Linked DNA regions of Homo sapiens: regions 1, 2 and 4 are each reported to be linked to region 3. The links are microRNA targets in miRTarBase. Many come from high-throughput screens and were not tested one by one. Region 3 holds a microRNA gene; each other region holds the end of a gene's coding sequence.

Evidence for each region. Region 3 holds the annotated microRNA hsa-miR-331-3p (GCCCCUGGGCCUAUCCUAGAA, at 2,204-2,224, shown strand). A microRNA usually pairs through its seed, bases 2 to 8, with sites in the 3' UTR of a target mRNA and lowers its output. Matches are read on the target gene's strand: a 7mer-m8 pairs with bases 2 to 8, a 7mer-A1 pairs with bases 2 to 7 and ends in A, and an 8mer does both.
Region 1: miRTarBase lists SF3B2 as a target of hsa-miR-331-3p. The part of its 3' UTR that is shown has no 7-base or 8-base seed match.
Region 2: miRTarBase lists TMEM254 as a target of hsa-miR-331-3p. The part of its 3' UTR that is shown has no 7-base or 8-base seed match.
Region 4: miRTarBase lists HNRNPH1 as a target of hsa-miR-331-3p. The part of its 3' UTR that is shown has no 7-base or 8-base seed match.

Annotation. Positions count from the first base shown.
Region 1 is chr11:66,068,557-66,071,556 of GRCh38, reverse strand. It overlaps SF3B2 (splicing factor 3b subunit 2), which reads right to left. Exons shown (of 22, transcript NM_006842.3): 22 at 2,249-2,883. The coding sequence ends at 2,812. It overlaps PACS1 (phosphofurin acidic cluster sorting protein 1), which reads right to left and starts at 1,285. Exons shown (of 24, transcript NM_018026.4): 1 at 715-1,285. The coding sequence starts at 1,070. RefSeq lists silencers at 341-545, 606-755, 766-895, 1,046-1,095, 1,106-1,725.
Region 2 is chr10:80,090,678-80,093,677 of GRCh38, forward strand. It overlaps TMEM254 (transmembrane protein 254), which reads left to right. Exons shown (of 4, transcript NM_025125.4): 4 at 120-1,874. The coding sequence ends at 240. Among named protein-coding and RNA genes, the nearest start is that of TMEM254-AS1, 13 kb to the left of the region's middle.
Region 3 is chr12:95,306,277-95,309,920 of GRCh38, forward strand. It overlaps MIR331 (microRNA 331), which reads left to right and starts at 2,144; the gene lies at 2,144-2,237.
Region 4 is chr5:179,612,866-179,615,865 of GRCh38, forward strand. It overlaps HNRNPH1 (heterogeneous nuclear ribonucleoprotein H1), which reads right to left. Exons shown (of 14, transcript NM_001257293.2): 13 at 2,681-2,730; 14 at 1,313-2,094. The coding sequence ends at 2,681. All of the region lies in intron 4 of LOC128966623 (a long non-coding RNA gene), which reads left to right. Among named protein-coding and RNA genes, the nearest start is that of HNRNPH1, 9.3 kb to the right of the region's middle. RefSeq lists an enhancer at 963-1,022.

The sequences.
Region 1 (3,000 bases), not on the chromosome of region 3:
TTTGCCAATGGAAGGAAAGTCCCCAGATGGTTCCAACAGACAGAGAGCAATGGATTGAATTTAGGAACAAGGCAGTAATTTCATACAGCCCTGCAGAGCTGGGAGATTCTGGGACCAGTTTTAGTGGGGGAGGGGAGGTAAAAATACACTTGAGGACACATTAAATAGGGCCCCAAAACTAAGAGCCTAGCGCTTGGGACAGAACGTGTGTAATATGAAGTTCAAATGAACATGTGTGCCGAAGGCTAATGAGAAGCCCCTAGGGTGATTATATGAGCTTTACCTGCAAGAGGTGACAATCGAGTTTGGCACATGCTGAGTCTATTGGGAAATAATAATATCAAGAGATCTATACCACATCCATGTATGTACAGCTCCCGGCGCCGGCGAGGCAGGAGAGTGACTTACTCAGGGAAACTGACTGCCAGGAAGGCCGGATTCGGTCAGCCCAATCGGAGAAAGCCCGGGGCCGAGGCCAGAAGGTCCCTCGGGGAGGACAGAAGGGTGGTCCCGGCCCCAGGCAGAAGGTGGGGCTGCCAGGAGAGGGCGGGTCCCCGTGGCAGGAGTCCCGGGAGGCCTGGCTGGAGCCAGGCCGGGCCGCGGGACAGTCGGGGAGATGGAGGGCGGGGACCCCATGGGCGCTGGGGCGGGGAGGGCTGGGCCCCGGCGGCCACCCCGCTCCCCCGGCGCCCCGCCGCACCCTCCCGCGCTCACCTAGGCACGCAGCTGGACGAGCTCCGGTCCACCTCCCAGGTGGCGTACAGGTTCATCTGCACCGGGGCGGGGGTGCGGCCTGGCCCCGGGCCACCGGGAGGCGCGGAGCCCGAGGCCACCGCCACGGCCATGGAGGTGGAGGTAGACGAGGACGAGGAGGAGGCAGCCGCCGCCGAGGTGGACGAGGACGACGAGGTGGCCTGGGCCAGCTTGGGGGGCGTCGGCTGCTGCGGCGGCTGCTGCTGCTGCTGCTGCGGCGGCGGCTGCTGAGGGGACTGGGCGACCCCGGATCCCCGCTGGCCGCTGCCGCCCCCGGCGCCTCCGGGACCACCGCCCGCCCCTCCGCGTTCCGCCATGGCCCGGCTAGGCGGGGGTTACGGAGGCCGAGGCGACGCCGATCTGGCTCCCAGGCTTCCCCCGCGGCGGCGGCGGCGGGGGCGCGGCAGCCTCCTCAGCCCGCCTGCCCGAGCGCGAGCAGCCAGCGAGCTGCACGCACGCGCGGGGCCTCTGGGCGCGCGGGCCTCGCGCTCGACCGCCGCTGCCTGTTGCGGCTCGCGAGGCCGACACGGGTGGGCGTGTCCGGGAGGGGGCGGGGAGCCCGGCCCGCGCGGCCCCACCCAGCGCGGAGGGGCCGGGCCGGGCGCGCTCGCGCCCTGCGTGCAGCCACGCGCGCCCCTCGCTCCCGCGGAGTAGAAGGGGTGGTCTGTGGCCAGCGCGCGCCCACGGGTCCTGCCCTCAAATCCGCTGCCAGTCTGCCCCCGCTCCTCCCCTCCCCGCCCACGGCCGGCCGCGGCCCCGCCAGCGGAAACCCGGCTTTTCCGGGATTCGGTCCCTGCAGGGAGGGGGCCGCCGCGGGAGCGCGCCTCGGCCCCTCGGGTCTTCGGAGCCAATGCGGAACCCGCCCCCAGCGGTGGGGGTCTGCCCGGGGAAGCCGGCTCTCCGCCTGCCGACCTAGCCCTGCCCTGCGGCCCCGGCAAACAGAGAGGTCGGCGGAGACCCGGGGCCCGCTGCCACCGCGGGTGCCTGTGATCCGGGAAGTTCCCGCCCCGAGGGCAAGCGGGGGCTCAGGGACCTGGAGTCCAGAAGGTTCTTCGCATAAGTGAATTCTCAAGCTACCCCGGGGCCCATCTGGAGCCAACCTTCCTCTTCTTTCCCTACCCCCCAAATGCCTCTTTAGAGTGCCAGTGCTTTGTTGCTTACCAAATTTCTAAAATTCCATTCCTCCTAAGGCCTAGCTCAGCTGCCACGTCCTATCTGGATCATGCCCCCCACAACCCCGAGACCATCTTGAACCCTCCGGCAAGTGAGCGCCTCCACTGGTGCACTTAAACACCAACAGTAGTACAACAGCAGCGCATGACTACCCTCCCCACAGGCTGGCAAATGCCCATGGGAGCCAGTGATCCAGCCTGCTCTAGTCTGTCAGAAAGGCTGCTCAGGACCAGATTACAACCTGGAGAAAGTAAGTCCCCCCATCCCACATACAAATCCCAAACCCCAGCGACTAGTGTTGCTTGAACCCAAGGGTTCATATGGACTCAAGACAATTTAGCTTTTGAGCTATGTTGTCGCACAGGTAAGGACTTGAACTTCTGGTCACAAGGTCAGTTGGGAAGGCCTGCCCTGGCCTACTTCCCAAGCCCACTGTTACTTCCTCTGCCGCGCTAGGGCGCTAATCTGGCTATTTTTACTCCCCAAGGACAAAGTAGTAAGGTCAAACCAGACCTAGAGGTACTTCCCCCAAGCCTTCCTACAAAGCAGGGCAGTGGTGAAACACAGATTTCAGCCTGGGGTTGGCGTCACCACCAGTCAAATGCGCCGTCTAATCCCAGTTTATGTTCGTGGTTACTGGGGCAGCCCAGTGATTGTAGAAAGAGACTATTTTAGTCCTTTTGCAAGAAGGGGCTAAAAGGAGATGAGGGAGGCTCAGGAGTGTTAAATATTCATCTCTTTCCTTGGGAAACAGCTTTATTTACAAAACAGGTCTAAAATAAGAACATGAAATGACAAGTCCTTGGGAACTGCGGGAGAGGTGGTTCTTGTGTGAAGCCCAGGCATCCAGACGTAGGGCCAAAAAAAGGGCTAGTGTGAGGGGACCTAAAACTTGAACTCCTTATATTTCTTGCTGCCCCCACGGCTGTCCTGGGGCTGAGCTTTCCGTTTTTTTTGCTGTATAGGGAGAAAGAGACACAGGTTAAGACAGGTTGAACCACCCCCGGACCCCCAAAACAAGGGTGGGCAGCCTGACATAGACATAGAAGTCTGTGGGAAAGGCGCTGAATCTGA
Region 2 (3,000 bases), not on the chromosome of region 3:
ATAAACCCAATGAAAGTAGTGGAAGGTATAATTTAAAAAATATATATATAGAAGACAATAACTCCCATGAAACTGTAAGATTAACATCTCGTGTTTAAATTTTGTTTTTTCTGTTTTAGGCATAAAGGCATCACAAGTGGTCGGGCTCAGCTACTCTGGTTCCTACAGACTTTCTTCTTTGGGATAGCGTCTCTCACCATCTTGATTGCTTACAAACGGAAGCGCCAAAAACAAACTTGAAGTTGTCTGAAAGCTTGCTCTACACTTTTACATTCATCCTCACCCTTTTTTTTGTGGGGTAGAGGAGGTGCAGTAATTTACTCAGTGATCTTTCTACTTTCTAGAAACTGTCCTTCAAAGCTCTTTAAGACCCCCTCGTTAGTCAGTTTTTTCTCTTATATGCTCTGGTTGAGCTTGAATAGACCAGTTGTTACTTAAGAAAGAAACAGAGAAAGATTTTAGCTTTTCAATCCTATTTGGCAGAGGACTTCAGCTACCTTCTTACAGTCTTTGGCTGTGTTGGTACCCTCGTGTGCTCTGAGCTAAGCCACATACTAAACTGACTTTTTGGTTTGTATACCCTTGCTCCCGCCTTCTGATGAAAACACCTTACCCTCACAACCACCATCTTTCCTCTCCTTTCCAAAGCTCTTTCCACCTTGCTGCACTAAGATAAAGTGACACTTCCACTATATGTCAATTCCACACACATTTATTAGGTACCTGTGAGGTAGGATCCTATCCTCTCAAACTTCCATTTCTCATGCTACAGAGAAAGATAAGGAAGATGAGCAAGTGCCTGGAATGGGGCAGGCTGAGCAGTCACACAGGCATAGAGGCACGCTGAGAACCTGGAGGGGAGACTGCAGAGTGCCTTCCCTGATGCTGCAGCCGGAAGTGATCCTTCCCTCCACCTGGCCCCTGGGACACTGTGCTCTGCAGTGTGCAGGGCCTGATGGCACTGCTAGATTGCTCCTTCAGCTCAGGGCCACAGCTTAAACAGCTTTACCTTTCCCCTCAGCACCTGTCCCACTATCTTGCACACAGGTGCTCTAACCATGTTTATTGAACAAAGGAGGGAAACTGATTTCACTTTCACTTGTTCATTATCATTCCAATTTTTATGTGAAAATGGCACAACCCATTTGGGGTACCCTCACCCCAAAATAAAAGCCCAAGTCTACCTTTGACTGGTACCACCTTTTTTGTGGTTTCGTTGGTGAGAAACCTTTATCTTTTTCATACCTTTCTATTCTCAATCACTTCTCCAAAAGTGTGTCTTTCCAGCTCTGATTTATTCAAAACACAAGCATTTCTGTTTAGAGATTCTAGCCCATGGGTTATCTGGCTAGTTATTACCTCTCCTGTTCACTTAGTTATACTTTATTATTGCTCACAGGCTGGGGAGGCAGAATGACTCTGTCACCACTAGGAGCCATTAGGGCTTCTTCCCTGGAGGACTGCCTGCTTGCTTTCTGGGGACACTAGCCCTCATTTCCCTTCTGTGGTACAGTGGGGCAAATTATTTGTATTAAGCAAACATTTATGGGAAACAACCCGCTCCCGAAAACGGAGCCCCCAAGTAAAGCACAACCCTGAAAGATTATGAACTATGAATTGTCTCTGGTAGAGATAAATTTCTGCAAACATATCTCAGTCTTCCCTCTGTTTCTCTGGTGATTAAGAAGTTCCTTTTTGGTAAGGAAAAGGATTTTTAACCATAGAGTTAGGCATCATGGAAATTCAAACCAGATTTCTTAATACCTGGTCTTCCTCAAAGAGAAATAATAACAGTAATAGTGGTGCTGGGAACAATATGGCAGATTATTGAATGAAATTGATTAACTTGAATAAAATGCTGTGAATTTTCTCTAGCTGAATGCTTTTCTTGTATTTGTCAGTTTTAACATATTGATGCACATTTGATACTTTTTCTCAAATAGACTACTAGGGAACTGTTTATACACTTCAGATATCAGTTTGTTTTTCACTGATAAAGAAATGCAAAACACTGTGGTTGTCGGGTATATACGTACTATATTTTAGAACTGTCCATGTCCCACTTACCTCCTCCACATACAAGGAATCACTAGGGTGGACCTGAGTGTCTCCTTTTCATTGTAGGATTGTCTCCTTTTTGTTTCTGTTTTTATTCAACATTTGATAAAGTCTATGCACTAAGTAAGGAGTGTTCTGGCATTTTTTTAAATGCATGAAGTCCGGTATGCATCACTTAACAATGGGGATGCCTTCTGAGAAATGCACTATTAGGTGAGTGCATTGTTGTGCAGATATCATAGGGTGTACTCACAAACCAAATGGTAGAGCCGACTACACACCTAGTTTATATGATACAGTCTGTTGCCCCTAGGCTACAAACCTGTACAGCATGTAGAGTAGTACTGAATACTGAAGGTAACTGTAACACAGTGGTAAGCATTTGTGTACTAGCTTTTCTTTAGGATGGGATTAAAAATATATATATATATATATATATATATATATATATATATATATTTTGGGAGGCTGAGGCAGGCAGATCACCTGAGGTAAGGAGTTCAAGACCAGCCTGGCCAACATGGTGAAACCCCGTCTCTACTAAAAATACAAAAATTAGCCAGTCATGGTGGCAGGTGTCTGTAATCCTAGCTACTCAGGAGGCTGAGGCAGGAGGCAGGAGAATTGCTTGAACCCAGGAGGCAGAGGTTGTAGTGAGCTGCGATTGTAGCATTTCACTCCAGCCTGGGCAACAGAGTGAGACTCCGTCTCAAGCAAAACAAAAAAAATAGCTAAACATAGAAAAGATACTGTAAAAATGTGTTCCAATCCTATGGAACCAGTGTCATATGTGCTGTCTGTGATTGATCAAAACGTCAATATGCAGCCGGGTGTGGTGGCTCACACCTGTAATCCCAGCACTTTGGGAGGCCGAGGCGGGCAGATCATGAGGTCAGGAGATCGAGACTATCCTGGCTAACATGGTGAAACCCCGTCTCTACT
Region 3 (3,644 bases):
ATTAAGCAGGATCACTTTTCTCTCTTGAATGAAAAATAAAATTTGCACACTATAATATTTACAAGTAAAAGTCAAATCTGTATAGAAATGGATATCCTAGCATCAAACAACTTATTTTTAGCAACATGCTGATTATTTTAGTAACCATATATTGACTCATGTTTTCATTACAAAGTAACTGTCAAATCAGTCTGTTTATTTTATGACCATGCCTCATAGTCGGCATTCAGTTATCCATGCTAATGGAAGGGATCTGTGGTATAATAATCATAAAAGATAAGTGGTCCAGGCTGGGCGCGGTGGCTCACGCCTGTAATCCCAGCACTTTGGGAGGCCGAGGCAGGTGGATCACGAGGTCAGGAGTTCGAGACCAGCCTGACCAACATGGTGAAACCCCGTCTCTACTAAAAATACAAAAATTAGCCGGGCGTGGTGGTGGTACCTGCCTATAATTCTAGCTACTCAGTAGGCTGAGGCAGGAGAATCACTTGAACCCGGGAGGCGGAGGTTACAGTGAGCCGAGATTGCGCCATTGCACTCCAGCCTGGGTGACAGAGTAAGACTTCATCTCAAAAAAAAAAAAAAAAGATAGGTGGTCCAAACCAGTTTCTTGAGTTGAGACTGCCATTATAGAAGAGATAGTCAAGATACCAAAGCCAGGTCAGTGATAAAAGAAGAAAACTTCTGAGTGTAGTTGTGAGAGGAAAGTGATTCTATTCAGTGTAATTGCTGTAAACCAAAAAGAGGATTAATTGATTCAAGGATTCACACATGTAAAAGTTTAGCATGAATAAGGAGGAACTGATTTTATAGATATTCTAAAATGTGTGATAAGCTAGGACGTAGTGGCTCACACCTACAATCCTAGCACTTTGAGAGGCTGAGGCAGGAGGATCTCTTGAGGCCAGGAGTTCAAGACCAGCTTAGGCAAGAAACAGCAAGACTTGGTCTCTACAGAAAAACTTAAAAATTAGCTGGATGTGGTGGCACACACCTGTAGTCCCAGCTGCTCAGTAGGCTGAGGCAGGAGGATCACTTGAGCCCAGGAGGCCACAGCTGCAGTGAGCCATGATTGCACCACTGCACTCCAGCCTGGGCAACAGAACGAGAGACCTTGTCTCAAAAATAAATAAATGAAAATGGGCTGGGCGTGGTGGTTCACACCTGTAATCCCAGCAGTTTGGGAGGCCCAGGTGGGCGGATCACCTGAGGTCGGGAGTTCAAGAACCGCCTGACCAACATGGAGAAACCCCGTCTCTACTAAAAATACAAAATTAGCCGGATATGGTGGTTCATGCCTGTAATCCCAGCTACTCAGGAGGCTGAGGCAGGAGAATCGCTTGAACCTGGGAGTCGGAGGTTTTGGTGAGCCGAGATTGTGCCAATGCACTCCAGCCTGGGCAACAAGAGTGAAACTCTGTCTCAAAAAAAAAAAAAAAAAAAAAAAGAAGGAAAATGAAATGTGTGATAAATTAAAGTGCATATAGTATTTTTTATGGTATATATTTTAATGTATTTTAGCTTGTCAGCAATGAAATTAGTTTTATCTCTATGTATTGAACTTCATTTAGCAACATATTATTGCAATAGTACAGTATTTAAGCTGCATATTCTCTTGACTGCATTATCCTTTAAAATCAGTATATTCTGTGAGATATGGCTATGGATATATATATTTCCTCTCCTATTTATATCCTAAGATTTTCTTAAAGGATAATTTTACTGTTTTAGGCTTTATGTTTTTCAGTTTTATATCATTTCCTAAAGCTTAGCTACCTACAAATGAATATTATTGAAGAATTTTTCTAAAACTAAAGCATGTCTTTTATAAGTTTACTCTTTTATAATATCCTAAACAAAGCATATCCTTTTCCCCTTCCTTAAGTAAATTCTTAAGGAAATTAACTTCATTTCTAAATCAAAGTATTTTCTGCACTTTTATTGCACCAATCTGTTACCTTCTGTTCATACCATGACTTAAATAATGCTTACTCAGGCACAGTACTATCAGCTGACAACGTACAGAAGGCTCCAGAAATGTCACTCCCATCCCTTAAAGGTTGGTATATGGTCCTGGTACAGTCGTGGAGGTCCATATGGGTGAAAAGCCCAGAAGTCTACCTGAGCTGAAAGCACTCCCAAGGAGTTTGGTTTTGTTTGGGTTTGTTCTAGGTATGGTCCCAGGGATCCCAGATCAAACCAGGCCCCTGGGCCTATCCTAGAACCAACCTAAGCTCGCGCATCATTCCTGGAACATCAAGAGTGTGAAGACTGAAGATAACCTGAGGCCTACCAGACATCCTATATTCACCAAGATTCACATTTTTTGGTATGTGTGCCTACATTTTAGCAAAAATTGGTTGGTTAATCCTTCTAAAATTAGAGGGATGACATTGGGTAACAAAGTCTTCCCAGCCTTTGGCATTATAGTAATTTCTCGCAATAGAAATTCCATACAGATATTATTGCCAGTGAAGAGAGCTATTCTTGTTTATTATCAGTTCTATATTTTTAGCTGAAGCAACTTAGCCCTAAAAAACCCCAAAATCAACTTCTTCCTCCAAATTAAACTCTCCCCCAAATTTAATGGTTTCTGTTTTCTTAAATGTTTTTCTACTTGACACTGTTATGTCAGTCTCATGTAACTGAATAATTGTTCATAATTTCTGAAGAGCATTTAGTCTTTGCCATCTGGCTTCAGTGCCAAATGATTTTCAATTCTTGTTTTTGGAGACTAATGACTTTTTCCTTAATTTATTATCAAATTTGCCACATTTTAGAGCTCACTTTTAGAAGTTCTGCTATGGTTAATGAAAACAAGCTAGAATGACACAGTAGAAATTGGTTAATACGTCACATTTTACATCACTATTTTGTAGAAGATTTTTAGTAAGTTTCTCTATTTTTATTCCTTGCCACTCTGGATTTTACAAATATTCTGACCTAGTTGATCCATCACATGGTCTCATATCACAACTGTTGCATCGCTATATTCACATAGATGTTTTTCTGTTTAATTTAGAAGACAGTATTTCTGAAAAAGTATGAAACGACCCCAAATCCAAAAGTTATGGTGCACAATGAAAATGTATGCTTTTAATAATGCTGGCTTCTGCAGTAGGTGTAGACCATGTTTCAAATAACCACAGACTAATCAGAAACTCCACCTGTGAAAGGAACTTGAAATTGTGCTATTCCTCCAAGCTTATAACACCAGCAAATTGGGTCAATAGGTTATTCCTTTAAAATAGGACTATGAGCCTACAGAGGCTCACTCTGAAGAACTCAGCCGTGGAGTTAGTTCTGTACTATATCCATCACAACAGACATGCTTCATCCCATAGACTTCTTGACATAGCTTGAAATGAGTGAACCCATCCTTGATTTATATACATATATGTTCTCAGTATTTTGGGAGCCTTTCCACTTTTTTAAACCTTGTTCATTATGAACACTGAAAATAGGAATTTGTGAAGAGTTAAAAAGTTATAGCTTGTTTACGTAGTAAGTTTTTGAAGTCTACATTCAATCCAGACACTTAGTTGAGTGTTAAACTGTGATTTTTAAAAAATATCATTTGAGAATATTCTTTCAGAGGTATTTTCATTTTTACTTTTTGATTAATTGTGTTTTATATATTAGGG
Region 4 (3,000 bases), not on the chromosome of region 3:
GGACTTTAACTTGTGCAAGCTCTCAACGTATCAAAGAGTGCAGTTAACTGATAAGGTGCTGAGGCAAGCGATGTCCAGTTCCCAGCAATTTACTCAGAGATGGTACCATCAAGCCCCCATGTTTGTCCGGTAGATAACACCCAGAGCCCCCTCACCTGTCACTTTGTGATGAATTTGAAGCTCCTGCACCTGGAACTGTTTTCCTGTAACCATTTGTCTTTAACTTTTTTGTCTGTTTTTCTTCCCTAAGATGGCTGCAGCTAGAATCCCCCTCCCCTCTCCAAACCAAAGTATAAAAGAAAATCTAGCTCCTTCTTCGAGGCCGAGATACTTTCATGCGGTAGCCGTCTCTCGGTCGCCGGCTAATAAAGGACTCCTGAACTCGTCTCCAAGTGTGGCGTTTCTAACTCGCTCAGGTACACCACTTGGAAGCAGCTTGAATACTTGCTATCATCATGTTGGAGCTTCGAACTACCAAAACGTGATATATTTAAGAGTTCATTTAAACTTCTCATGTTAGCTCTCAATCTCTACCTATCGTTCTACCTTAGGAGACTTACATGGAATTTTGCTTCCAAGTGGAATTGATTTTTAGGAATGACCCAAAAATACAGAAGTTCAAAACTTCCATTTGAAAACCATCTGTGAAGGCTGGGCAATGGCTCCAGCCTATAATCCCAGCACTTTCAGAGGCCGAGGTGGGCAGATCTCATGAGGTCAGGAGTTGGAGACCAGCCTGGCCAACATCGTGAAACCCCGTGTCTACTAAACATACAAAAAAAATTAGCCTGGAGTGGTGGTGGGCGCCTGTAACCCCAACTACTTGGGAGGCTGAGGCAGAAGCCCACAAGGTGGAGGTTGCAGGTGAGCTGAGATCACGCCACTGCAATCCAGCCTGAGACAACAGAATATAACTCTGCCTCAAAAAAAAAAACAAACCTATGAGCTTATGAGCTAGAAGAAACCCACATATTCATCACACCTCCCTTGCCTCCGGCACCTTCCCAGCCAAGCATGAAGGCCTCAAAGACATGCAGGCATGCAGTGAGGGCACTGGCGCCTCCCCCTTTGTTTTGTGCAAGTGCTTAATGAGTTACAGGCAGTTCAGATCAGGTCCTGTGCAGCCAAATGACATACAGCCCTTCCACCAGGGCCCCAAAGACGAGTTTACCTTCAGTTGCACTGGAGGGAAGACTGAAGACATCTACGCAACAGCCTCAACTGCCAAGCCAGAGATGTGGCCCTAGGCCCCAGGTGGGCACAGAGCACCAAGACTCAGTCCACATGACACTGAAGCACAGACAAGACAGAGTGCAGTTTTTAAAAGGAGGATTTATTTGACAAGTTTCACTTAGCGCAATATACCTAAAAGGAAATCACAATACAATGAAAGATTTAAATCAAGGCCTCAGAATTTCATACAAACACCAAGACCAAAATCCTAAGTATTGGTATTGCGTCTCAAATTTTTCCCATTAACTTAAAAAAAAAAAAAGCTTAAACTTACGTGCCTTACAGGTTATTAAATGAAACTAGAATTAACAAACATGCCAAAATGTTTCACTTTTAATAGTAGACACAGCTCCTATATTGTTTTACAAAAAAATAAAAGCATGTCTTTCAACATGCATCCAAAACAGTGTTCAATTTAACGTGGCAAAGGGCAACATTTAACATAATTCAACTGCTTTTACCTAAATACGCTTACTGCTTAAGTACATCCTATAACTAACTTGAGAAAAGCTGGAACTTAAGTTTAACAGTTATAGTTTACTCAGCTTCACTGTTACATCCTAGATGAGTATTGTATTCAAAAATACTGGGCCTTAAGTCTTCATAACAATCCTGATTTCCACTTAGAGTAAGCATAAATCACAAGCTTGTATTGCAGAAACTGTTAAACTGAAGTTTTCTTAAAGAAAAAAAAAAAAAAAAAAAAAAGGTTGACCAAGAGTCAGTGATCAGGATCGATCAATTACATTCCCCATCCACCACTCATACTGGACATGCTAGACAACCCTCCCATTCCGTTCACGCCCATAGATGCACGGCTTCCACTACTGTAGTAGCTGCTGTTCACTGCTCCTTGGTTACCTGCAAAGAGATCAATTTGACAAGTTAGGAGTAATATCAGACTACCAGTCAAATAAAATATAGTATTCCAAGAAAAAGTTTAAAAAGTATACGAGTACAAATGGCTGCTGTCCAAGTGGCGAGACGCATGTTTGGGAAAGGGGAATCCCGACTCCAAACAAGCCTCAATTAACCCCTTTTCTCTGCAGTACCAACTTGCCAGACTCTTGTGCTACCATTTTAACGGATTCTTCAGGATCAACATGAAAAATTAAGTTTAAAGGAAAACTAGTGTTTTTCAAAAATTGCAAAATTACTTCGTATTTTTAAAGCTAAACAAGGCATTTTTAAAAAAAATTTAACATAAACATTCACAATGTGTCCCTCGAATGGCATTTGAGAAAAGGGAGCACAGGGGAAGTCTCTTGCTTTTCCTATTCATGGTGGGCAGGAAGTGAGACAACCAAGCTGGACTAAAGGCAACTCACTGTGCCCAAATGGCAGCCTCCATGGAGTTAAGTCAGAGCCATTGACTGCTATAGAAAGCATTATTACAACATATCAGTATTTGCTATTGGGAATTTATATTTTTTGAGAAAATATTTACCTATGCAATGTTTGATTGAAAATCACTGGAGTTTTCCTGTAAAACTTGGTCTGCAAAAGGATTTTGTAGGGTAAGACTATAATACCAAAATCACCATTCTTTAGACCAATTGAAAAAAAATAAATAAAACCAATCCTAGGTTAACTGACTAATAAATACGATCCTGAACCCAACCACCATTCTACTATTTCAAATTCTCCCTCTGTCTAAAACTGACTTAATGCTAACCAAAAGACAAAAAAGTGAACAACTTTATTTAATGTTTTAATACATGGAGGCAGATATTTTCTGGCTCGACAGTATTCCAAAGCTGCAATGAC